Regions from separate parts of the Homo sapiens genome. Here regions 2, 3, 4 and 5 are each linked to region 1. Evidence: fine-mapped expression QTL. A gene starts in region 1. Each other region holds a variant in brackets. All regions are shown on one strand. Distances are from middle to middle. Region 1 holds the start of GARS1-DT (GARS1 divergent transcript). Region 2 overlaps CRHR2 (corticotropin releasing hormone receptor 2). Region 3 has its middle 7.2 kb from the start of GARS1-DT. Region 4 has its middle 17 kb from the start of GGCT. Region 5 overlaps NOD1 (nucleotide binding oligomerization domain containing 1).

Region 1 (5,104 bases):
CATCTCAAAAAAAAATGGCCTTCTGTATAACATTTCATATGAGCTCATATTAATTTTTGCTCTAGGAGAATTAAGGGTTCTTAAGAGGGCTACAGGCAATAAGCTGACCCAAATTTCTGATGTTTTCTAACATAGCTTAGCTAACACCCATTTTAAGAGCTTGATTAGCCCTTTCTACTTTCCCATGTAAATAATTTTTGATTCTGAGAGCCTTAGCAGCCCCTTGAGTTCTAAAAGATGGGTCTTTATCACTTTAGAGGCTTTGGGGTAACCCAAACTAGGGGATTTATTTCCTTTAAAAGAAGCTTAGCAACTTCATGAGCCTTCTTTGTTCTCATAGAGCAAGCTTCAACCCAGCCAGTAAAAGTATCTATTACTACTACCAAAAACTTGTATACTTTGCACACTGGCATATGGGTGAAGTCTAATTGCCAGTCTTCCCCTTTAACTTTAGCCAATATGTTCACACACAGAATCTCTTTTACAATTAATTTTTCATAAGCCTTCCACAACTTGTTCAAACCTTTTAGATTATTCCTATCTCACTTAAAACCATCCTTTCACCCTCTAAACTTAGGCAAGAAATCCACATTCCCATGCTTTTTACCAAAGGTACATTATCCTTTTCTTACATGAATTCTTTTCATAACTTACCCAGACCATCTACAAAATGCTTGGACTTTCTGAGTTTTCCTAAACATCTTTCTTTTTAAACAACCAGTCATTTTACGTTAGGACAAGAATTTATCGTACAAGATCTTTTCTCCTACAAAGCCACCATCTCTACAATCTTCCCTCACAAAAACATATCTTCATATATATAACTTTCTTCACATCTCTCCCCTACTTACTGGTTCCTTACTACCTTGTTTCATAAATAACTCTTTTTTTTAAAGTCCATAATTTGAATTAACTTTCAGATAACCTCCAAACTACACAAAATAATTCTTTCTCACCAATAACACATTTTTTGGCATATTTTGTATACAGAATTATATATTAACTATAATTCATATCCTTATGTATTAGTCTGTTTTCATGCTGCTGATAAAGACATACTTAAGACTGGGCAATTTACAAAAGAAAGAGGTTTATTGGACTTACATTTCCACATGCTGGGAAGGCCTCACAATCATGGTGGAAGGCAAGGAAGAGCAAATCACATCTTATGTGGATGGCAGCAGGCAAAAGGAGAGCTTGTGCAGGGCAACTCCCATTTTCAAAACCATCAGATCTCATGAGACCCATTCGCTATCATGAGAACAGCATAATTCAATCATCTCTCACCCACTGGATCCCTCCCCACAACACACGGTAATTATGGGAGTTATAAGAAGAGATTTGGGTGGGGATGCAAAGCCAAACCATATCATCTTAGTAACCTTAAATTTTAGTGAAACCTTAGGAAGCAAAAAATCCTAAACTATCAGATATTAGCATTTTATAGATGAGAATAATTCCACAATTTTTGGAAACATATTCCTCCCTATCATAACCCTTTCTTAATTGGAAATGACTGAGATATCCAATGGGCATCAAAAATACTTTTAAGATTTTAAATTACACAAAATTTACCTAATCATTCATCCCATTTACATGTACTTAAGTCTTTCATTTTTAACAGTTTATCTAGATTACTTCTGAAAACTGAGATATTAGACACCATCATTTAAAGTTAGTTATTTATTTGTTAACCATTTTTAATAGCCAATGAACATTATGTGTTCACCTAAATAAGAACCTCACAGTTAAATACATAGGTGTTTTTGCCAATAACCCAGAAGATTTAGCTAACAATATTAAATTAGTCTCATTTGTCAAAGAAGCCACATAAACTAAGGCCATTTTGTTTTGGCTGGGTTAATAGCTTTATAATCTTCTATGCCAAATGCTGACACTTCAACATTTCTAGCAAAGACAAATATAAAACCCAGACAAAAATGTATGCTGACAATTCTGAAGATATTTCTATTTTCATTTTACCAATAATTTTAAAGCCAGCTATTTAATGAAGATTTACTTAAGTCACATGAACTTGAAAATTGCTTGGACTTATTTATTTAATTTATGAGTGCTTTTTTATTTATAAGCTGATTTGGTTGACACAACATATAACAATAAGTGTACATACAAATAAACACATCTAGACATGTATACACACACACAAACGAAGATCCAATAGCTTTTACCTTGGAACTCTAGCCATGAGATATCAATACAAGCTCACAGGTTTTACATGGTTACACTTTGTTTGCTCCAATAGGTAATCCAGTGAAGGCTGTGAACCAAACATTTTTAAAGCAGTTCCGGTGGCAGTTTGATTTTTAAAGGCCAAACCTCCTCAGACTCCAAAGACACTGGAGCCAAATAGCACCAAAGGAGAGCACCATATGCTGACTAGGCCTGACCCTTCTTAGGACAGCAGCACCAAAGCCTGGATACATGCAACGTCATCCTGCTTTCCCATTCAACAGCAAACTCCAGATTCCAAACAATACTGGGGCCAAGTATTATTGCAAAAGAATATCAAATGTTTCCTCCTTAGATTATCAGGGTCAAATTCATTTCAATGGTTGAGGATGCAGCCAAGTGGGAAGTCAGGTGGAATAAATGGAGTGTTTCCTGTAGTGGTCTGCAAGAGAGAGACAATTCTAAGGAGGCCTTAGTACTAGACCTGAGAACCTTTGCCTAGGGCATCCCCTTTGGAGAGGCTGAGGTCTGGAGTTGGATCCCCTAGGCATCCCCCTTTGAGGTCCAGTCTAAAAGTGTCAGACATCTCTGACCTTAGGTGGGCACCAGTGTTGCTTTGTATGTTTTCCCTCCAGAGGCAATGGCCTAATATGAGCTTTTCTCTTGTCCCTGGATGAAGGTCTCAGCTTCTAGCTTCCTACCAATTTAGATAGGCCATATCTTCCTGCATTCCTTGCAAGACTAAGGAGGTTCCCGAACACTGCAGAGTTAACGGTACCAAGGCTAGTGGGATATTCCCCATGAAGAAATGGTGCAGAGGTTATATAAAAGATTGGGTTTATATTGGGTATATAAAAGATATATAGAATTTCTACGGGGTTCAGGGCAAGCAAACTGATGCCAAAGCAATGACCACCAAGCTCCCTTAAGTGGAGGTCCAAGATGTAGAATGTGTTCTAAAGCTTGTGGGTCCCAAAGGTCCTCAGCCAGTCAATAGATTCAGTAGGAGAAGGGAGGTCAAAATATCTAAGAGATATTATCTTTTGTCCTTACAGGCCAACTTTATGGGAGAATTTAGCTTAAGAAAGAGGGTTTAAGTCGCCTGAAATGTGTGTGAGTTCACCCTGGACGAGCTTCTGCTGCCAATTGCATCACAGGTAGGGATCAGGGACTATAACTCAAAAAGATACAAAAGAGTCCTTCCGCCTTCTGGGCAGGAGAGCTATCCCAGGTTCACTCCTTGGCCTTCAGGTAACAGTAGAGAGTGGTCCCGGCCAGTTTCCCTCAATTACCAAGAAGCTACTAGGAAACGGCCACTGAAAGACTGAAAAAAGGAAAAGGACTCAGGTCCCTCACCTGAATTGGGCAGTGGTGGTCAGGCACTTTCACACAGAAACCTTTCAGTTTCACCAGAGAGTGGCCCTGTTAGAAACCTGTGGTTGCCTCTGTGCTTAGGCACTGTCCACCGAGGGTTCCAAGCTGGAAAGGGAAAAAGAGACAGAGAAAAGAGTTCCCCTGTAAGGAGCAGAGAGGAAAAGGGAAATCAAGAGAAGAAAAATAAATCCCAAACTTTGGGCTTACCTCCTGGCTGGCTCGCCAATATATGTTACTGGTGGAGGGTCTTGACTATGAGTCATCCAGGTTCTTGGCATTTTGAACAAGGAACTGGACAAAATGCACAAACCAAGCAATGAAAGAATGAAGCAAAGAACGCACAGATTTATTTAAATGAAAGTACACTCCACAGACTGGGATTGGGCTCCAGCAAGGAGCTCAAGAGGCCGGTTACAGAATTTCCTGGAGTTTAAATACCCTCTAGAAGTTTTCCATTGGTTACTTGGTTATACCCTATGTAAGTGAAGGAGTGGCCCACGACAAGTCTGATTGGTTGTGGGAGGGGACCAATCAGAGGTACTTTCCATTTTTATCTGTGAGGCAGTGCAAAGACAGTAGCCTCTGATACTTTTGTTACTTGGGTGTGGAGAGGTGGGGTTTTCCTTGTGATTCAGTTCTAGGAAGTCAGGGCAAATTGGCCTTAGATTCCCTGCCTCCAGACCCTATTCTTCTACCTCACAAGCATGTCATGAATGGTCTGGAGTAAATCATAAGCGGATTTATGGAAAAAAAAGCTTTTAGATAATCAAGTTGTCTATAATTAAAGGGAAATTATTTTTAATGGTCTTTCTAGGAATTGGGTTTTGGTATTTTCTAAAAACCATTTATATACTGAAGAATCTTAGCACTTTGGGAGGCCAAGGCAGGTGGCTCACATGGTCACAGGTTCAAGACCAGCCTGGCCAAGATGGTGAAACCCCGTCTCTACTAAAAATACAAAAATTAGCCAGGCGTGGTGGCAGACGCCTGTAATCCCAGCTACTCGGGAGGCTGAGGCAGAGAGTTGCTTGAACCCAGGAGGCGGAGTTTGCAGTGAGCTGAGATTGTACCACTGCACTCCAGCTTGGGTGACAGAGTGAGACTCTGTCACACACAAAAAAAAAAAAAAAAAATTGGTTAGAACAATGGAATTTTCTTGAAGTATTGCTTCATTCTTAATAAAATTAAAATTGATAAAAGACATTATAATTTTTTAAGTAAATTTCAACTTGTATTGCATCTCACTGTTTTCAGCTTTTTCTCCCCTTTTAAAGTGCCTGAAATAATCACTCTATTCTTCAACTCATTTTCAGCTTCTGTAAGCTTCTTTTTTTTCGGGTTCTGTTGTGGTCTGATGCTAAAAATGTTTTCTCTTAAAGGTCTAAAGGAAATGTTTCCTTCCAACATAATATTCTGTGCTTTTGGCTTTAAATTGTTCTATGAAATAAAAAATTTTCACTTACGACCCAGGAAACACTCTTCCTATGTCTAACTGTGTCCAGAATTGGTTCCTGCCTATGGGTTCTTGGTCTCACTGACT
Region 2 (5,104 bases), 79 kb after region 1:
GACAGGCAAGTGTATTCCTCTGGAGTGTTCGGAAGCTCCCAGGCCCTAGGGGCTGTGTCTGCTCTTTGCTCCATGTCCTCATCCACCCCAGCCCAGGTACGAGTGCGCTTCTTCCCTGCGTCAGCTGCACTGGGGCTTTGGGCCTCATGATTGGCTTGCACATGCCAAGCTTCACGGCCGCCTGACTCCCCAGAGCCTGCTCTTGGTGTGTGGGCTTTTCTGTGGCAGGTAGCGGGGGAATGTGCTGGTCTCTCTTCTGCTCCCTGAGTCCATACAGACCTGATTGCTTGGCACACATCTCTTTCTGGAAGCTTCCTTCTGTCACCACCTCTGCTCTGGCTTCTCTCTTCCATGAGGCCCTGCGGCCTGGGCTTCCTTGCTCACCCAGCTCTGAGTGCACATGTGGGGTGCTGGCATGTTATTTCGGGGCTGCATAGTTGACCTTCTAAACTGGCTCCAGCCCCTGTGAGAAGGATTCCTGTTCCCCTAAGGCCGGGTGGTATCTCAAGGCTTCCTCTCCCTGGCACTCCAGCAAGGCCGGGCAGCACCAATGGAGCTGCCCTGGAGTGGGGTCTGAGGACCTGGATATCCCAGGCCACCCCGAGGGCCCAGCTTCATACCTCTCCATTGAAGAAGCAGTAGAAGACAGACACGAAGAAACCCTGGAAAGGAGGGAAAGGAGGGAGTGGTCAGTGACCTACCTGCGGAGCTGTTCTGCCTGGTGGGGTGGCACTGGGGACAAGATGGTGGGGGGGGGACAATTTGACCCAGGAACCCCTGGAGTCAGAGCTGGGTGGGGTCCTAGCCTCAGGGTGCAGATATTCCACGGTCCACTCTGAGTGAGCAGTGGTCACAGGCCTGGAGCCAGGCAGACTCCGGTCTCCTCAATATTGTGTGACCTGTCCCAGGGCATTTGGTTGGGCTGCCTGCATCCTCAGAACAGGTGCTGGGACAGTAGGTGCGGGCTGGTAGGATGAAGACCCAGGCTGGGATGGGGATAACTGGCCAGGCTCAGGCTGAGCATGTACGGGCTTCTAACTCTGTGGATGTAACTGAGCCATGGGTGTGCCAGTCCCACGGGACCCCCTTAGTGAGGGCATGGCTGCCAGAGCAGCCTCAGGAAAGCTCACTGTGGGGCCCCCATCTGGTCACAGGCCCCACCTGGAACGACTGCAGGAAGGAGTTGAAATAGATGAACATGATCTGTGACAGGTCGTCCTCCCCGGGATTGACGAAGAAGAGCATGTAGGTGATGCCCAGGAGGGGCAGGAGCACCAGGGTGGCCTTCACTGCCTTCCTGGGGGCGAGAGGTGGACACAGGTCTGAGCCCATGCGGCAGGCAGGGCCTCACCCAGTGGGCGGCGGGAGACAGTGGTGGTGTTTCTTCCGGGAGCTTGAGCGAGCTCCCTGGGTGAGGCCTGGGGCAGAGGGCTCTGCCAGGAAGCAGGGGGACGGCCCGATGACCTCCTCCTGTCCCCATTGTGGGGTCAAGGGACCCCCTCACATACCTGTACTGGATTGTCTCGGATGTGGTGGACGCGCGTAACTTTGTCATTAGGATCCTGACGATGTTGAACAGAAATACGAAATTGATCTGGAGGGAGGGCGGGCATGGGAAAGAGGGAAAAGGAAGGAGCACGTGTTTGAGATGAGCCGAGAGGCAGCCCCCTTCCCCGCAGACCCCTGGAAACCGATGTCCCACGCACACACCTATCCTACCTGTCCCCCTAGCACCTGCCAGCATCCCAAGGCCTGTGCTCCTCCCTCGCCAGGATGGGGAGACAGCCCCATTTTCCAGGGCCTGTGTCTCCAGCCCAGGACTGAGGAGGAAAGGTGGCAGCCTCTGTGGGTCGTGACCGAGAGCACGGGGCATGCCCTCTGAGGCTGAGAAAGCCCCCAACCCTCTCCCCAGTATAGGGACCCTATGGGAGCCCCCTTCCCCTCACTGCCACGGGGTCCCTACTTGTTGACTGCGGGGCTCTCTGAGTCCCTTGCACTGTCACTGGCTCTAGGTCGGCCTGAGGTCCTTCTGACTGAGGACAGCACTGCCATGGTGGGGCGGACAAGGCCAGATGGAGGGATTAAGAACTCAGTTGCCGAATGAGTGATTAATCTGCCAGCATCCCACCCCTGTGCCCAGGAACTCCAGAGCCTTCGTAGGCACCCTAGACAGGGAAGATGGATGGGCTGTGGGGCTGGCTCTGAGGCCCCAGGAAGGGCCTCATTTATCTTCATTCTGAGTTTTCCCTCAGCACCAGAGCCTCCCCACCCAGCACCTGGCCCTGGAACTGGCCTGTGTGGCTCCCCAGCTGCTCCCTGCTGGGTGTGGGTCCCCATGGGCCTGCGAGTGTCTGTTCATCTGTATTGGCTGTGACTATGACTGTGTTGTCCCCTGGGAGCTGCAGTGTGGGTCTGTGGGTCTATCCTTTAAGCACTTGTGCAAGTGTGTTTGCCTCACAGAGCGTGTGCATGTGTGAGCATGGATCTGGGGCCCGGGCACATCTGCGTTTCTCTTCACCTGCCTCCGAGCATAGGCAGGCAGGCAGGCAAGGGAGTGTGTGTCGGCCTGACACAGTGGGGCTGTTTCCTGACAAAGTGCTCGTGGGCCAGAGGGAGACACATGTTAGCCCAGGGGTGTCTGCTGGCTCGTGTGCACACACCCACTCACACACACACACACACACACACACACCTCTGACACTCTGTCAAGAAAATCCATTGCTTCTTAAGCTTGGGCTGGGCCCTTCTAACCCTCCCAAGTTCTGAATCCTGGCTGGGAGAGGAGGGACACAGGATACAGACAGATATCCTGAGACTGTCAACCTGTAGCCTCTGGATGCTCCCCACAAGCTTTCGGGTAGCCCTAGGGGCAGGGAGAGCTCACACCCCACCTCAGCCACTGTCTACTGCTCTCTTACCACATAGTGGTATGGCCTGGGGGTCCCAGGGAGGGCTGGGGATGGAAAGCCTTCAGCGGGGCTGCCATGACCTGATACCCCCAGCTTTCTCCTAGGGCTCACCTAATTTCCAGCTCCTGGGTCTCTGGCATATTCCCCTGGATCATGGGACACAAGTCACCTTAACATATAAGTGAATCCTAATTTTCTCATACAAGTAATACAAAGTATTTGACCTTTTCTGATTCTTCCGGACTTCCCTGAGAGTAGAAACT[G/A]TTGGAATCAAAATATATTCTCATTTCTGCCACATTTTCTTGAATTCAATATTAATCTTCCAACATCCATCAACCCACTAATCAATTCAATTATCCACCCACTTTATTCATCTATCCATCTATCCACTTACCTACCAACCAGTTCATTCATTTACCCACCTACTTTTATCCATCCGTCCATCCATCCATCCATCCAGCCATTCATCCATTCATCCTTCCTTCCTTCCATCCATCCATCCATCTACCCAACAACCAATTCATTCAATTATCCACCTACTGTTTTATCTATCCATCCACGTACCCATCCATCTACCCATCCATCTACCTACCCAATAACCAATCCATTCAGTTATCCACCTACTCTTTTATCTGCCCATCCACTGGCCCATCCGTCTATCCATTCATCTACCTAGCAACCAAGGCCTTGTCTCCATCCTTACACTTGGCAGACATTTAGTTATGTGGCCCCACTCATCTCAGCTTGGGTCTATGTAACCTGAAAATCCTTCTTTCCTTTGAGCCTGTTTCCCAGCCTCCCCCTTCACACCACCACAGGTACCTTCCTCTCTCTCCAGGGAGCCTTCTGGTCACCCTGCCCACACTGAGCTCTCCGGCTTTCCATTCTTGGACTCTACCTCCCTGCTAAAAACACACTCCAGTTCTTTAGTAAGAACTGTCTATTGTACCCTGCCCTCGTTCAGCCTGTTTCTGGTTTTATTTAATTGTTCATTCATTCAATGAATCAATGGACCATGTGTCAGGCTCTGAGCCAGGCATCAGCGATGGCGAAGTGGACAGGCAGTCACAGCCCCTGCTTGCAGAGGGCTTGTGGCCTAGCTGGGGGCCTGGAGGGGTTGGGGGTGGGGGAGATGACATCTTTCCTAAGGTGTCAAAAAGACCTGGAGAAATGGCAGATGGGCTAAGAACTGAAGATGAGGCCCCCCTCCCAAATGAACTGAAGCACCAAGTCCTAGTCTCATGGCTCAAATTTTGACTGTTCCAATTTGCAGTTGTGTGGCCTTGGGTAAGTTGCTTAACCTCATGAGCTCCTGCTTCCTTGTCTGCCCCCGAGGGGCCTAACCACAGAGCTTGCCTTAGAAGATCAGCATGGGCTGAAATAGTCACAGAGACCACTAAGACCTGTGTCTGGCCTAGTGACTGCCAATCCTTTCCCATGACACCAACAATGACAACACCAGCAAGAAGTCAGGCTTCCTGCAAATTCAACCACCTGATTCACTTCTCAGAACCAGAAATAAGTGAGTGTCTCTTAGCAGCAGAAATGCAGCTGTGAGCTGCTGGGGAGTGTAGGGATGGCAGGAACACCAAACACGTGTCCAACCTCGAGGACAACAGGCAGATGGTGGGGACAAAGCAGGAGACCTGCCTTTGAGCCTCTGCTCTGCTAGCTATTAGTGGTGACCTTGGGCAAGCCACTTCATCTCTCTCAGCTTCTTCCTCTGTAAAATGGAGAGCATAACCCTACTTCTTTTAGGACTTGAGCATGCAAGGGTTGGAAATAATGTAGATAGAGCTTCTGGAAGGGCTCAGCTTGGAATGTGGAAGCCCCTGTTGGTGCAAAGAGCTGGGCCCAAAGGAAAGAAGGAAAGGGCTCGTGAGCACAGACGCAGGGGTGGAGCCAGAGAATGGGTCTGGAAGAGGAAGCATGGAGCTGGGTCTTGACACTGAGCTCTTGCGTTCCTCGCCTCCCTTTCTCTTGGCATTTCCTCACCACCCTTCCAACATCTTTACAGTTGGGGCTTACTCTTTGCCACCATTGGTCCCCCATCCAGGCCAGCCTTCCTTGGCTCAGTTCCAGGCTCATCAAAAGCCTTATTCCTCCAGGATGGCCCTTGGCAGCTGGTTGGGAGGGAAAGGATCTCATGGGGTTTCCATACACACTGAGGGGTGAGTGACTCACTGCAGCTGGGA
Region 3 (5,104 bases), 7.0 kb after region 1:
TATTGTCAAGTATAAAACAATGTTTAATCTTCTTTGGATTATATTTATGCACATATGTTATTGGTATATGTTTGAGAATTGTATGAAATTCCTGTGATTCTGATATGACTTGGCATATGTTATCAGTGGTAATTATTATTATTATGTAATTGTGGTAATTATAATTATGTAAAATTGTTGTATGCCACAGAAGTAACCAAATATCTTTGTCAATTGTGTCTTTATGACTGTTCTAAGACTTTTGTTATCCACAGTTGTTTTACTTTTATCCTATTCAAAAGGTGGTTTTATAATCAGCTGTGGGACTCTGACAGGTGCTCTTGAATGCAGGCTTCTAATAACTTTGGAGACTGTGACACTAGAATAGAGGAAAAACTTCCAAGACTCCAGTGGAGAGCTGAAATGTTCATGAATATCAAGCAGAAAAGAAGTTAACTGCATGGACTGAACTAATAGAAAACTGAAATAGTCCTTTTATGACTTTTTGCCTAAAACATTGCTGACCCTTTGTTTTTCAGAGCCAAGAAAACTTTTCTTTTGAGCTATTTATAGCTTTTAACAATGGAGTAAAGTATATTTCTGTAAACAAAATTTGGAGCATATTTCTCTCTACCTGATTTCTCCAAAATTTAGAAACTAGTTGTGAGTATTCTTAACTTATGGCAATATAGTTATTTGCATACATGCAATAAGAATCTTTCCTCTGAGAAAGATTCTTTCTCAAGAATGTTCCTTTGTAACAGGGCACAATTGGAGACACTGGTTATTTTACCAAGGTTTTGACTGGAATAGGATGCTTTCAGATACAAACAGACTCCTTTAAAGAATGAAAGTTGACTTTAGAGCCAATAAAAACTCCTTGAGAAACCTGGTCTCATACCTTGTCTGCACAGTCCCGGAACAGGGTGACCTGTAGTGAGTAAAGAATGTCACTTTCTGACAGGCCCAGGAGCCCCAAGTTTTCTTGGGACCTTGAAGTGAGGAATTCACTCAACTAACGCAAGGATTTGCAGGCACAGGCCAGGCTTAATGCATTAAAGTTAAATCTGAGATTCTTAGTGGAATAAAGTTCTAGCAAAGCCAATTAAAAAAAAAGAGGAGCCTATATAGCAAATAATTATTCTTCTGACTTTATGCAAATACTCCAGCCAAGTATAATAAGACTACAACTTATTTTGCAAATGAATTTGTCCTATGACTTGTCTTTAGTGAAAATGAGACTGGAGAGAGGAAAATTATATTTCAACATAAACTATAGTACACCTGTTATTAGATTCTAGTCTTGCCTAATGTTTTTCAGTTTTTTTTATTTTCTACAATTTAGATTGAATTCAAAAATTTTTCCTGGCTACAAGTCTCCAAAATAATGTTTTCAATTTTTTTCTTCTTTCGTTTACTTCCCCCCACCCCATTTTTCCTGATTTGAAATCACTTAAAATTAAGCAGTCTTTCTTAAAGCCCTACAGACTGAAGCTAGACAATGTAAACTTCAGAAGAAAATAATAGCAACCTATTTACACACATAAACCACTTTCATACCTGCCTACTGACATGGACTTCAGAGTAATACGGCCTATATTGATTTTCCAGGATTCTTCTTCATTTTGTTTGTTTGTTGTTGTTTTTCTTCCTTCCTCCCCCTATTTTCTCTTCAAAGGACATGAGACTTCATAACCTACTAAAAATGAGCTTTCCAAATAACGTGGTACTTATCCATCTAGGAATAAACTATCCTAGCCATGAGAGATCAGACAAAGCCTGAGACCAGAGACTTGTTTTCTTCTAAAATGCTGTCTCTGAAAGATTTTAAAAAGAAAAACGGGGAGATGTGAGAGGAAAATAAATCTCAGGACTCCAAAATTACTAAGCCAAAGGGAAAAGCCAAGCTGGGAACTGTGGGGCAAACCTGCGTCCCATTGTACTCCTAAACAAGATAGCAACAAAGATAAAAAAGCTACATACCTCCCTCACAATTTGCCCACAAGAAAATTCCCTGTAGACAAAAGACAGACAGAACTCAAAGTCATCCTTTTGCTCATGTGAGATAAATGCATATCTAATTGCTTCCTTTTCCCTATTGTTTCACTAAGCCAGACTAAGGCATAAGTGACTATTCCTGTAAGTTATGTATTCAGTGAAAGGTTAATTAGAAACTCAAAAGAATGCAGTCGTACCTATGACCTGGAAACCCAGGTCATAGGTATGTATCAGTGAAAGGCTAATTAGAAACTCAAAAGAATGCAAATGTACCTGTCACCAGGGAGCCCCCTCCCTGCTTCATGTTGTCCCATCTTTCCAGACGAAACTGATGTACATCTTACATATATTGATTGATGTCTCATATCTCCCTAAAATGTATAAAACCAAGTTGTGCCCCAACCACCTTGGACACATGTTGTCACGTTGTCAAGACCTCCTGAAGCTGTCTTGGATACATGCTTAATCTTAGCAAAATTAACTCTCTAAATTGACTGAGACCTATCTCAGGTATTTTGGGTTCAGATAAAGTTTTAGATATGGACTCACTGTAAAAGCAAGGCTTGTTGTTTCTAAGAACTATACTGCGGAGATGAAAAGAGGGGGACTTTCAGGCTGGAAACTATCACATCCACATTCCTTTGCACATCAGCAGCAGAGTCTTTCTTTATACATGGACACAATCCAGGCTCCTCCCTGAGAACTGCCTTGCAGTCAGCAGGAGATGAAGGGTGTTAGGACACTTAGAACTGAGAAGAGTTGGCCGGGCACGGTGGCTCATGGCTGTAATCACAGCACTTCGGGAAGCCAAGACGGGCAGATCACTGAAGTCAGGATTTCAAGACCAGCCTGGCCAACACCCTGTCTCTATTAAAAAATATAAAAAAATTACCTGTGCATGGTGGTGTGTGCCAGTAATCCCAGCTACTCAGGAGGCAGAGGCAAGAAAATCGCTTGAACCCAGGAGGTGGAGGTTGCAGCGAGCTGAGATTGCGCCACTGTACGCCAGCCTGGCAGCCTGCGTGACAGAGCGGGACTCCGTCTCAAAAAAAAAAAAAAAGAGAAGAGTTTATGATATAATGCAAGAAGGGAGGGGCAGACCTTAAA[A/G]ACATAAACTTACTACGTTTCAACACCATACATTTGAAAGGGGCCACAGGACTGGCCCAGAAAGTACTCCATATGTATAAAAGGGCTGCAGTTTGTCCGGTGGTATAGAACATTAAGAATCTATTTGTTTGTTGAGACTTCAGCTTTCTCTTACTCCAAACATGCTGTGCTGTTTTGTCATAGAGAGCTGATGTCTTCAGTAGCAGATACCCCAAGTCTCTTGATGCCTCTTCTTTATCCCTATCAATTCTCTCTCTTTACTTCCTTCCCCTTCCAATCTAGAAGCCTATATTAGTCAGCTCAGGCTGCCATAATAAAATACCATAGACTGGGTGGCTTACGCAATAGAAACGTACTTATTCACAGTTCTAGAGACTAGAAATCCAAAATCAGAGTGCCAGCATGGTCAGGTTCTGGCATGGGCCCTCTTCCTAGCTTGCAGATGGCTGCCTTCTCACTGTATCCTCACACGACAGAAAGAGAGAGCAAACTTCCTGATGTCTTATAGGAGCACTAATCCCAGCATGAGGGCTCTATTTTGTAACTTCATCTAAACCTAATTACCCCCCAAAAGGCCCCATCTCCAACTACTGATACATTGGGGGTTAGGGCTTCAACATATATATTTTGGGGGGCACAATTAGCCCAAAATATGGCCCAAGTCTATCATTTTGGTCATTCTCTTGCTGGTGGTCTTACTCTCTTGCCCTTTTGTCCTCCTGGCGCAACCTTTTAGTCAAACCCCAGTCTGGGATTAGGCCAGTAGTCCCTTTCCATGGGGCAGCTCCCAGCTGTTGAGCACTGCCAGGGAAAAGCACAGCAGATTAAGGACCTGTGGCCACTGAAAATTAGGGTCTCCTCAGATTCATGTACTGATATGAAAGAACTATCACTTATACATGGGTCTTTAGTTCAAAAAACAGCAAGATGCATTTCAGTAGGCTTAATACAATGATTTCTGTAGAAATGTAATGTGTTATCTATGTGAAATGGACTTGTATTAGCTTAGAAATAGTACAAGTTGGCTGGGCGCGCTGGCTCACACCTGTAATCCCAGCACTTTGGGAGGCCGAGGCAGGCAGATCACCTGAGGTTGGGAGATCGAGACCAGCCTGATCAACATGGAGAAACCCCGTCTCTACTAAAAATACATGGTATTTTTGTAGGCATGGTGGCAGGTGCCTGTAATTCCAGCTACTAGTGATGCTGAGGCAGGAGAATCACTTGAACCCGGGAGGGGGAGGTTGTGGTGAGCTGAGATTGTGCCATTGCACTCCAGCCTGGGCAACAAGAGCAAAACTCCGTCTCAAAAAAAAAAAAAAAAAAAAAGCCAAAAGTTTGGTCACTCAGTGTCAAGCTGGAACACAGGAGTCCTTTCAAAGGTTCAGAATCCCATCGCTAGGACCCAATCTCCGCCAGAGCAACACAAGACCATTTCTCCCTGAGACCCTGGCACTGTCACAGTCAGTGAACACATCTCCATTTATTCTGGCATCCACAGGCCTTGGTTCTGCAGGCTTTCACCTCAGAGAAAATCTTGTCACTCTGGCCACTTCTGCTTCTCACTCTCCAAGCCCCTGAATGCCTACCCCCGACCCAACCCTACTTTAACAGATTAGAAGATAAAGTTTTCCCTTACCTATGCCCTGGGAATCAAGGAGGGAGGGAAGAGAAACAAACCTCTTCCCTCCTGATGCTTCTGTACCAGCAAAATCAAAAGAGAATTAAATCTTACAACAAATTGCACTGCTTCAGCTATTGACACTGTCCCACAGAATTCGAGGGACCTCACCTCCTCGTTTTTGGACGACAGAGGCTGAAACAAATCTTTGCTAAGGGAGGCTGGAAGTTGGGGCAAAACATTATTAATGGGTCACAGGCCAGAAAGGAGAGTCAATGAGAGAGGATTAATGAGGCCAGATCATCTGGTCCACAGGCTGGGCTGACTCATCCTGCATTCTGAGGCTTGATCTTCAGTGCACCTACCTGTGTTGGCTCCTGCTAGGGCTGCGTGAGCCTA
Region 4 (5,104 bases), 57 kb before region 1:
TTGATTTGTTTAGGATGATCGTTCAGTTCTTGAAGAATCATATTCAATAAAATCCTAAATTATCCAGAAAATTGAAGATAAGCAATAGTGTGTTATCCAGAAAGGGAAGCATTCCAAATCTTTACCTTGTTCTGGTTTGACACTGACTGGGTTTGTGGGTGATAACCTTTCATTACAGGATTGATTTATACAAATATTGCATGGCTTTGCTGGTTAAACACCTGATAATCAGTTTGAAACTGCAGGGCTATAAAAATATCCATCAACCTCTATTAAATGCAGTGAGGGTTGCAGCCTGGCAAAAAATAAGGATCAGACTGTAAGGCTGAGAGCAAATGTGATAGAGCCCCAAATTATTGATTAAACTAGAAGAAAATTGGGTGCCTTGGCTTTCTATTTCCCATCATTCTTACTTTGTTCCTTTTTGTCTCTTTTACGATTGTCAAAGCAGTTTACGGGTTTAATAGAACAGGTTAGACAACTTCACGGAAAAGTACATAATGGGCATCAATAATAGTGGCAGGCCTTGTTAGACCAGTAGTATCTTGACACAAAATGCTTGCTCTAACTCATTAAAACATTTTAGTAAGTGTCAGTATTAATACATGTTTCTTGCTGCAAATAAAATTTATTTCCAAATTCCAATTTAGAGAAATCTGGTGGCCTAGAAAATACTATTCCCTGATGTAATGTGATTTTCCATGCTGTCATTCAATTGGGAATTTTCTCAATATTTCAAATCACTAGTGAATTGATAATAACAAATTATATTGCTGCATTTGGCCATTACAAGTCCTTTTGCCATTTTCGTTTAGTGGGTATGGTAGCTGATGGTCCTCTGAACTGCTCTAAAGAGGCAAATAACAGTAAACACTGGTCTGCTATGGAACAGGGGGTGTTTTCTGGGTTCTCAGCCAGGTGTCAAAGAGGAAGGTTTAGAGGTAATCTGAAGACCATTTTTTAGGAAGAATATCTTCCACCTGGCCTAGAAAATACAAGAAATTAAAAGGTTCTTTCAGGAAGAAACTTAAAATACTTTTTTTCTTGAATTAATGTCATCTACTTTGTAAAAAATAATCTCTTTTGTAGAGTTATTTTGCATCTAACTTTGACCACCTATCACTGTCTTGGAAACAAACACAAAAACAATTAAAATCCAGGGAAATATTGATAAATATTTATATTTGCAAGTTAGGATTAGACAGGAGTGACAAAACCAATCCCGCGGACAATAAGACCTATGAGTATAATAATTTTGGTCTGCCTGCAAAGACCTTTCCTACTTTCCATTCCTGGAAAACTCATATTTGTTCTTCAACATCAAGCAAATGTTACCTCTTCTATCAAATCATCCCTAACTTCCAGGTAGATATGGTATTCTACATGTATAGTACTTGATCGATTCCTTTACTATTGTACTAAAACAACTTTATTTGTTTACATGCCTCTTCCCCCTACTAGACTATGATGCCCAGAGAGAGCAGGAATTATTATTTATTCAATATATATTTATTGAGTGCTTACTATGTGCCAGGACATTTTGCTTCTCCTTAGGATCACAATATACATCTCTTTATTCCCAAAATTAGTACATGCCTGTCCCCTCATGGAAGAGGCACTCAATAATCAGTTGCTAAATAAACAGCTGAGTGAATGAAAGGGTGAATGAATGAATGAGCCCTATTGTATAAGATACAAAAGGCACCAATTTTACAGTGATGTTTCAGTTCCCCAATTTGCAAACAGAACTGGTGTAAAGCTACTAAGGAGAGCATGATTTGTCATTCTGCAGGGAGATGCAGTGACTCAATTCCTGGTTGACCTGTGGGGTTTACAAAAACCAGGGCTTAGTTTCTTTAAATTAACTTTAGGAGATGGCAGTCCTGGCCTGGTCCCTTTTATGTGCTGGAGCACCACCCTAAAAACTGTTGGCTGGCTACATCACAGAGAATTCCCAGGGCTCTCTTGCTAGCAGCCAGAGTGGAGAGAGGCAGGAAGGAAGGGAGAGAGAAAGAGAGAGAGAGAAGGAGAGAGAGAGAGAGAGAGAGAGAGAGAGAGAGAGAGAGAGAGAGAGAGAGAGAGAGAGAGAGAGACAGTCCAAACAGGAAGGAATAATGCAAACTTGAGTCATTTGAAAGACAGTGGATTTTCCTGTTACTGCAGTATGTTTGCTGCAGATTACATAAGACTTGTTGATTATTCTCTTACAATACTTCTGGTAGTCTATCCCTATTCATAAATAATGTGCTAGACTTGATGTAGCTGTAGCAAATCATTTTGACATCAGGGAGTACTTTTCAAGATAAGCCTGAGCCATCCTCATCCCTGAATTCACTCATTAGCAGTTTGCTCACAAAGGTGGTCTCTGGGGTAGGCTCAGAGAGGCCCCCAGCCTCTGAATTTCACGATTGAGATAAAGACTCATTATGTGGAGTCTGATCTGGTTCCATTAGCAAAATGATTTCTGTAGTTGGGTTTAGCATAAAGGTAGGTAGGCTCAATCTTATTTGTGTTCCAAGTTAATTCCCTTTCCTGTTTTCTGCCTGGCTGTTCCAATCTCTTAGCAGTCTTGCCAAGCCACCTCATTGTCAGCAGACAACATACCTCATATTTTAATGTTACAGAAACATTTATCTTTTTTCCTTTCTATCTTTTCATCTTTCACCTGTCATTCTCTGATTTCCTTCTGCCTCAGAGAAAATCTGTATATGTTACCCTTTGTAACAAATTACCCTAAAACTTAGCAGCTTAAAAGAACAAATATGTGTTATCTCATAGTTTCTGTGAGTCAGGAATTTGGAGGTTGCTTAGCTGAGTGGTTCTAGTACAGAGTCTTTCATGAGGTTGCAGACAAGATATCAGCTGGGGCTGCAGTCATCTGAAAGCTAGACTAGGAGTGGAGGCTTCACTTCCAAGATGGTGTACTCACATGGCTGTTGGCAGGAGGCCTCAGTCCCTCACTGCCCGGCACCTCCCCAGAGAGTGCTTGAGTGTTCAAGTGAAAAGTCAGCTGGCTTCCTCCAGATTGTGTGATCCAAGAGAAGAAGCATGGAGTAAGTCACATGCCTTTTA[C/A]AACTTACTCTCAAAAGCTGAACATTGTCATTTCAACCACATTCTATTATTTAGAGGTAATTCATTAAGCATCCCTTGCACTCAAGAAGAGAGGAATTAGATCCTATCTTTTGAAGGAAGGGATAGCAAAGAATCTGTGGACATCTTTTCAAACCACCACAGAGGGATTTCTCTTCCTTTTCAGGGTGAATTCTTCAACCTGTGAGCTTGATCCCATCCCTTCCCACCTGGACGTGGCTAATCAATTATGCTGTCTCTCGTAGTCTCATAATAGTAGATCCCATTTATTGAGTATCTACTTCATAATAGTAGACCCCATTTATTGAGTATCTACTATGTCCTGACCATAATGTTCCAAGAACTTTATGTAGATAAATTACTTAATACAAACAACAGTTCCATAAGGTAGGGAAATGATTAACTCACTTTTACAATTGAGGAGACCAAAGCTCAGGAGATTGTGAGCCTCCTGAGCTCACAGAGGTGAGATGTCCAACGTCAGCTAATAAGTTAAAAAGTTACACTTAAGGCCAGCCCTGACTAATTTCATATCTATGCCCCCTCCACTAATCTATTTCCACAGCGCCTCATATACTCCTTTAGTCTCTCCATCAGCTTCTTCTCCTTAGCCTTGACAAAGGCTCAAGTTGTCCTCATACAAAAATTACCTTCCTTTAAATCGTACCACATCTTGAGCTTTATCACATCTTCCCATCACCACAATTTTTTTGCAATACTGGTCTGCACACCATCCATGCATCTCTGCTGCATACAATGCCACACCTCCCATTTGTCCAACTCACAGCCATCTAGTGCTGCACTTACCAATCTACTGAAATGGATTTCTCCAAGTAAGATCACCAGTGACTTCCTAAATTTTAAGTCCGGTGCTTTCTTTTCAGCTCACATTCTGGTGTATTTGATCAATTCTAAGACATACGATTTCCAACATTTCTCAAATAGAGGTGTCTTTAAATCAATGGCACTTTGGGTTGATAAAACAAAGGTGTTTATACCCCTCTCCAGGGGTGTCTGGAGAAGAGAGAGTCGGCAAAGAGGGCAGCAAAAGAAGAGCCATACTGCATGCTCTGGGGTCCCTCTAGGTGAGGCCTGGGCGCCCCAGTTCCCTATTTGTCCTTGGCACCAGGTGCCCCCAGCTCCTTTCCTCAGGGCCCCAAGGGGAAACTGGAGCCCAGGATTGGCAGCGTGGAATAAGGGGACCCCACTGGACTCTTACCAAAGATTTGATGGTGTTATTCAGTTGACTGATTTTTATGGACCTCGGGTCCAGGACTACTGCTAGTTCTTGGCATGGGCTCTGAGGTGCATGCAGAGACGAGGAGGTGGAGGAGGAGTGGGGGAGAGGTAGAGAGAACAATCATTAAGGCTGGGGTGTGTGTGGGCTGTCTCAGCTGGCAGAGGGGCATGCCGTGTCCACTGTGGGAGGAGGTTGGAGGGCTGGCCTGCAGGGTCACTGCACCTCTCCCCAGAGCCTCTTACCTCCAGATCCTTCAGGGTAGCAGATGATGTAGGGCCCTCCCCGTGGATACCTGTTGCTGACTACCAGAGATGAGAATGCACATGGAGATGTTCTGTCCCCCTCAGTGTCTAAGCCCTCTGACTTCCTTTCTTCCCCATCAACTGGCTACATTTTCTTTTCTGCCTATCTTGGACGCTTTGTCCCATAACTCCTTTGTGCCGACTTCTCTCATGGTTCTTATCCCCCCACCATCCCACCCTGAGGCCCTTTCAGTGACTCTTGATGGCAAGTGGCTGTTCTCATTGTCCTGGCTTCCCCTTGAGACTGGGGATGAGGAAAATCAAAGAGCAATGACCATATCCTGGGTGTCCTGGGTGTTTACAGCAGGCCATGTACTAGGGATTAACATAAAAACAACAATAAAAAAATCTCATTTAAACTTCACAAATGGAAGTCAAACAATACCACCTCTATTATGCAGATGTAATAAGAGAGGCCCAAAGAGCTCAAGCAACTTGCCCTAAATCATATCCCTAGCAGACGGAGAGGCAG
Region 5 (5,104 bases), 130 kb before region 1:
TTGCATCCCCCAATAACCAGTTGTAAGCCTACTTGCCTATACTGGGATCCCAGTTTTACAGGTGAGGAGGCTGAGGCTCAGCAAGACTTCATGACTGGCCGAGCCACAAAGAGAACCCAGGACTCTCAACTCCTGGGCCAGCGCTCTTCCCAGCCCTGGGCCATCCGTGCCGATCATCCAGGGACCTATGGGAATGTGAATTCCCTGCAGCTCTGTATTATTACTAGGTAGTTGGCCCAGTGTTCTGGAGAAAGACATACCCCAAATAGGTCACAATTTTGTATTTGGTCAGCTCTTCGCTTAGCACCTTTACCCCACCGTCAGTGATCTGGTTTACGCTGAGTCTGAAATAAAACAGCAAAAAAATTACGAGTCAGGGCAGGCACTCATTATGAAGGACCATTAATCTTACAAAGATCCAGAAGCCTTCAGGCCCTGGAGTTTTCTCAGGTATAGACGCCCCTGGAGAATGGCCACAGCAATCAGCCAAATAGCCCCTTACAAAGCCTGGCCAACGTGGGGCCGCCAGACCCATCCTGCACCAGCCCATGAGCGAGGCTGCAGCACAGCCCCTGGCTCCTCACACGACCGTGAAGGACACAGGGAGGACGTGTGAGGCCAGCCACCTCTGACATCCACCCTTTGCGTGTGACCTATGTGTCAGCCAGACCCTGTACCTGGTTCTCGTATGGTGGAGGGCATGGGTTTGGAAATGTCAGGGGCTGCTTTTAGTGGTTGTGACTGGAGGAGGGAGTGCCCTGTCATCTTGCAGGCAGGGCCAATGATGTTAGGTGTCCTGCAAAATGCTGGACAGGTCTCACAAGAACTGTTATACCCAAAATGCCAACAGCTTCCCCCCATCCAGAAACACATGGGCTAACCCTGATTTGTCACTGGAAAAGGCTGTGAGTCCCACTGTCAAAGGAGACTGCTCATGTCATTCTGTAAAGTGTCAGACAGCAAATATTTTAGGCTCTGTGGGCCATGTGGTCTCTGTCACAGCTACTCAACTGTGTAGTGTGAAGCAGCCAGTAAGTAAATAAATGGGTATGGCTGCGTTCCAATAAAACTTTACTTAGAAACACAAGCCTTGGGCCCAATTAGACCCACAAGCTGACCTTGATAACAAGTAAAAGGCTGAACAATTAAAAGCTTGATTTTTAGGCCACATCAAAATGATCAAGTCAGACACTCTGGACCCTTTCCCTCAGAGTCCCCAGCTTGGTGCTGGGAAATAGTGTGTATGTACATGGCATGGCCAGCCCAAGACAGCACAGGCTGCTAGACATTCCCAATATCTATACTTTCTTAGCAATAGATTCCCCCATCTTTTAGCTGGGCCCATCTCATTAAATTCTGCCCATACCATTAAGTTCTGAAATCTAAGCAGCAATATAATTAGTAATAGCCAAGAAGTGTTCTTAAAAGATTGAGGCATGCTCTCAATCTTTGCCCTTCCTTCTTACTGATAGCTAGAGTGTCGACTAGATGGCTGGAGTTTGAGCAGCCCTCTTGGGCCAAGATGGGAAAGCCGGGTAGTGAGGATGGCAGAACAGGAAGGCAGAAGAGAGCCTGGGCTCCGGAGGGTCATGGAGACTCCATACCAGTCCTGAACTACCTACCTCTAGACTTTTACATGAGAGAAATAAGCTTGTAACTCACCAACATTTGGGGTTTTCGCTCTCAGCTAAAACTAATCCTAACTGATGCAGCCAGAGAACTGAGTGTGCTTCCCGTGGTTACCCATATCCTCTGCTTTCCTACAAGCTGTTTTTTCTTGCACTGGTGTGAAGGAAAGCTTCACCTGGGGACAGCAGGAAGGGCAGGGCCACCACACTGGTGTGGAGTTTCCCATTGAAAAGATGGACAGAGGGGTCGGGTGCGGCGGCTCATGCCTGTAACCCCAACATTTTGGAAGGCCGAGGCGGGCGGATCACCTGAGGTCAGGATTTCAAGACCAGCCTGGCCAACATGGGGAAACCCCGTCCTACTAAAAATACAAAAAACTTAGCCGGACATGGTGGCGTGTGCCTGTAATCCCAGCTACTCAGGAGGCTGGGGCAAGAGAATCGCTTGAACCCAGGAGGCGGAGGTTGCAGTGAGCTGAGATCACGCCACTGCACTCCAGCCTGGGCAACAGAGCGGGACTCCATTTGGGGGAGAAAAAAAAAAGATGGACAGAGGGTGGCACTGAGTGTGAGACTGCCTGGGGCTACAGAGGGAGAGTCACTGGCTGAGAGTACAGAGAACAGACTCCAGGTTTTCCAATTCCCAGGCTAGGGCAGCCTTCGACCCCCTGCACCCCATGTCCCCATGCAATTATTTACACTCTGACACTGGTGTGACAGGCACTGGGAGTCAGTTCCAAATCCCTACTGCTTTT[T/C]AGAAATGCATGAGTCAAGTAATGGCAAATTTAACCCCCTGTAGAGATTTACAAGGTTTATTTTACATAGGAAATGCTAATAGAAGAAAACAGACTGGGCTCTGTTTCCCGTAAACTATGGAACAGGAAAACAACCACGAGTCAGCATTTTAACTGAGGTCTCTAGCAGTGTGAAGGGCTGCTAGCGTTGATCACAGAAAGTCACCAGTGCCAACTGGCACAAGGTCTGCTTTCTCTGCAGTAATAAAAGCTCCCATATTCCAGAAACTTTTTGAGGGCTATCTCGGAGCCTTACATTAATCTTAAAAGGAAGGTTCTTTATGCATTCTGGCACTGCTATGTCTGAGCTGTGTGACCTAAAGCAAGCTATTAACTTCTCTGTGCCTCTACTTCCTTATCTGCCAAAATAGAGACAATAACAGTACCTAAGTTACAGGGTTGTAAAGAGCATTCCATTAGGTAATATTTGTAATGCACTTCACCCATTCTCAACTAACATTGGTCCCTGTGGCCATAATTGATAGGATTATGAGCATCTTCTTTTTCCAGATGAGGGCGTGGAGGCTCTGAGAGTTAAGCACTTTGTTCAAGGGCACCCAGCTGTGGCTGATCCAGGTCCACCTGCCTCGAAGCTTTGCACCTTGACCTCTGCCCTGCTAAGAAAGAAAAGGTCTGGACATTCCAAGGGCCATGGTCATGAGTCCTGGGGGATCCTGGTCCATGATGCCATTCCCGATGCCCTCCGAGCCTGGCCCGCCCGGCCCACCTGTTGCTCCCCTTGCCTGGCAGCCTCACCTGAGAACAGTGAGGCGGCTGAAGCAGGGCTGCAGCTCCCGCACGCCGTAGTCGTTGAGATTGTTGTTGTCTAGGTCTAGGGCCAGCCGCTTGGGGAAGTGATGCAGGACGAAGGAGAGGGCGCTGCAGTCGGCCGAGCAGGCGTTGCAGTAGGTCAGCTTGAGGTAGTTGGCGCAGATGCCCCTGGCCGCCAGCTGCCCCACCTTCTGGCTCTGTGTCTCGTAGATGCAGCGCAGCATCCAGATGAACGTGGGCATGGCCTGCACCTGGTTGAAGCTTTCGACCTGAACGCGGGGCAGGCTCTTCAGGTAGCCCCGCAGGCTGGAAAACAGGTGTGCCCACAGGGCCTTGCGCTTTCTCCTCAGGGCTGCCGCGGGCACCAGATGCCGCAGGAGTTTCTGTTTGGCTTTGGACAACAGCCCGCACAGGAAGAGGTTGGTGAACTGGAAGTGATCCTTGTTCTTGAAGAGGTCTTCCCGCGCCGGACCACTGCCCTGCAGGCACTGGAACGGGAGGAAGGGAGGATAGCAGGACGTGGTCGCTGCCCCCGCAGGGGGCATCCACTCCTGGAAGAACCTGAGCAGCTCCTGAGTGCCCACCCTGTCGTCCAGCACGAGGAAGAAGGCTGTAAAGAAGGCCTGGAGGGTGAGGTGGAAAAACTCATAGGACTGCTGGTCACCCCCGGGGCCCAGCTCCGGCAAAGCCCGCAGGAAGCCCAGCTGCATGTCTCTCTCCTGCAGCCCGGAGGCCTGCACCTCCTCCTGGGTGAAGACAAAGAGGCTCTTCTCCATGCCCCGGTGGGCCACCTGCCCCAGCGAGCACAGAGTGTCCCGGCCGGCGTGGAGGGTCTCCACTGGGCTGCGTGTGTTCCGCTGCACCAGGCTGCTGGGCTGCATCCTGTTCAGATGGACCTCAGTGACCAGGAGGAAGACATCTGTCAGGGTCATCGTGCAGTCGGGCAGCTGTGGTGAGCCTTCAAAGGCAGCACGGAAGTGCTGGAAGCACCGGAAGATGATCCAGCAGAAGAGGGGCACAGAGCACAGGCTGCAGAGGTTGGGGTTGGCCTCCAGCTGGCTCAGCAGGCGGTCCTGCAGGGCCCGCTCGGGGAACATCCTCCTGGCATAGGCGCGCAGGTGGCTGGGGGAGAAGCCCCGGAGAAGCACCTTCTTCCGCAGGAACTGGCGCGGGACCTCGATGCCTGTGCGGGCTGTGAGCAGCTTGCTAGCCCCCTTGAGCAGCTTCCCACTGAGCAGGTTGGCCAGCAAGACCAGGGGGTGGGCAGGCTCCCAGGGGCAGGAGCTGTCAGGCACGCGGCTCAGGTCCAAGTCCGAGTGCAGCTCGTCCAGGCCATCGAAGGTGAAGAGGGCCACGTGGGGGAAGCGCAGCAGGAAGGCAAACACCTCCTCGGGGTCCCGCTCTGGGTAGCAGTAGTGCTTGAAGAGCAGGTCCTGCAGACACAGCCTGTCACTTTCCTTGAAGCAGCTGAACATGCGGCAGCGAAAGTGGAAGAAGAATTTGACCCCTGCGTCTAGCCGGCCCGTGGCCCAGAGGCTCTGCAGCCGCTGTAGCAGCATGGACTTGCCCACCCCAGCATCACCCAGGATGAAGATGGTCTCACCCTGCTCATTGAGGATGCCGGTGGTGTGGTCCAGGAGGCAGGCCAGGCTGTTCAGGCTGCCCAGGCTCTCATTGCTGAAGCCAACCAGCTCCATGATGGTGTCCATGTAGATCTCCTCCAGCAGCAGCTCCTCCTTCTGGGCATAGCACAGCACGAACTTGGAGTCACGGCCCAGATGGTGTCGCAGCTGCTGGGTATACCTGCTCACTGGAGGGAGGGGGTGGCAGGGCACAGCAGCAGGGTGAGGAGAGAGGCAGAAACAGCATCAAACAGGGAGGTCTCAAAGAGGAGAGGCGAGTGCATAAACA

What was found. PIP is the estimated chance that this variant, and not a neighbour inherited with it, causes the effect. A credible set is the group of variants that fine-mapping cannot tell apart.
Region 2: its variant is the best candidate, but not a certain one, in a credible set for the expression of GARS1-DT in whole blood (TOPMed, PIP 0.56).
Region 3: its variant is the best candidate, but not a certain one, in a credible set for the expression of GARS1-DT in prefrontal cortex (BrainSeq, PIP 0.50).
Region 4: its variant is the best candidate, but not a certain one, in a credible set for the expression of GARS1-DT in whole blood (TOPMed, PIP 0.52).
Region 5: its variant is the best candidate, but not a certain one, in a credible set for the expression of GARS1-DT in whole blood (INTERVAL, PIP 0.53).

What each region holds. Positions count from the first base shown.
Region 1 is chr7:30,575,460-30,580,563 of GRCh38, forward strand. It overlaps GARS1-DT (GARS1 divergent transcript), which reads right to left and starts at 2,320. Exons shown (of 7, transcript NR_038889.1): 1 at 2,190-2,320; 2 at 1,105-1,251.
Region 2 is chr7:30,654,419-30,659,522 of GRCh38, forward strand. It overlaps CRHR2 (corticotropin releasing hormone receptor 2), which reads right to left. Exons shown (of 12, transcript NM_001883.5): 9 at 1,509-1,594; 10 at 1,162-1,297; 11 at 621-662. It overlaps LOC124901609 (a long non-coding RNA gene), which reads left to right. Exons shown (of 2, transcript XR_007060276.1): 2 at 1-5,104. Among named protein-coding and RNA genes, the nearest start is that of CRHR2, 25 kb to the right of the region's middle. RefSeq lists an enhancer at 311-1,510. The variant G/A (reference allele first, on the strand shown) is at 3,173.
Region 3 is chr7:30,582,461-30,587,564 of GRCh38, forward strand. No RefSeq gene overlaps it. Among named protein-coding and RNA genes, the nearest start is that of GARS1-DT, 7.2 kb to the left of the region's middle. The variant A/G (reference allele first, on the strand shown) is at 3,085.
Region 4 is chr7:30,518,835-30,523,938 of GRCh38, forward strand. It overlaps the pseudogene LOC100287825. Among named protein-coding and RNA genes, the nearest start is that of GGCT, 17 kb to the left of the region's middle. The variant C/A (reference allele first, on the strand shown) is at 3,073.
Region 5 is chr7:30,448,038-30,453,141 of GRCh38, forward strand. It overlaps NOD1 (nucleotide binding oligomerization domain containing 1), which reads right to left. Exons shown (of 14, transcript NM_006092.4): 6 at 3,179-5,003; 7 at 261-344. Among named protein-coding and RNA genes, the nearest start is that of NOD1, 28 kb to the right of the region's middle. RefSeq lists an enhancer at 1,489-1,989. The variant T/C (reference allele first, on the strand shown) is at 2,384.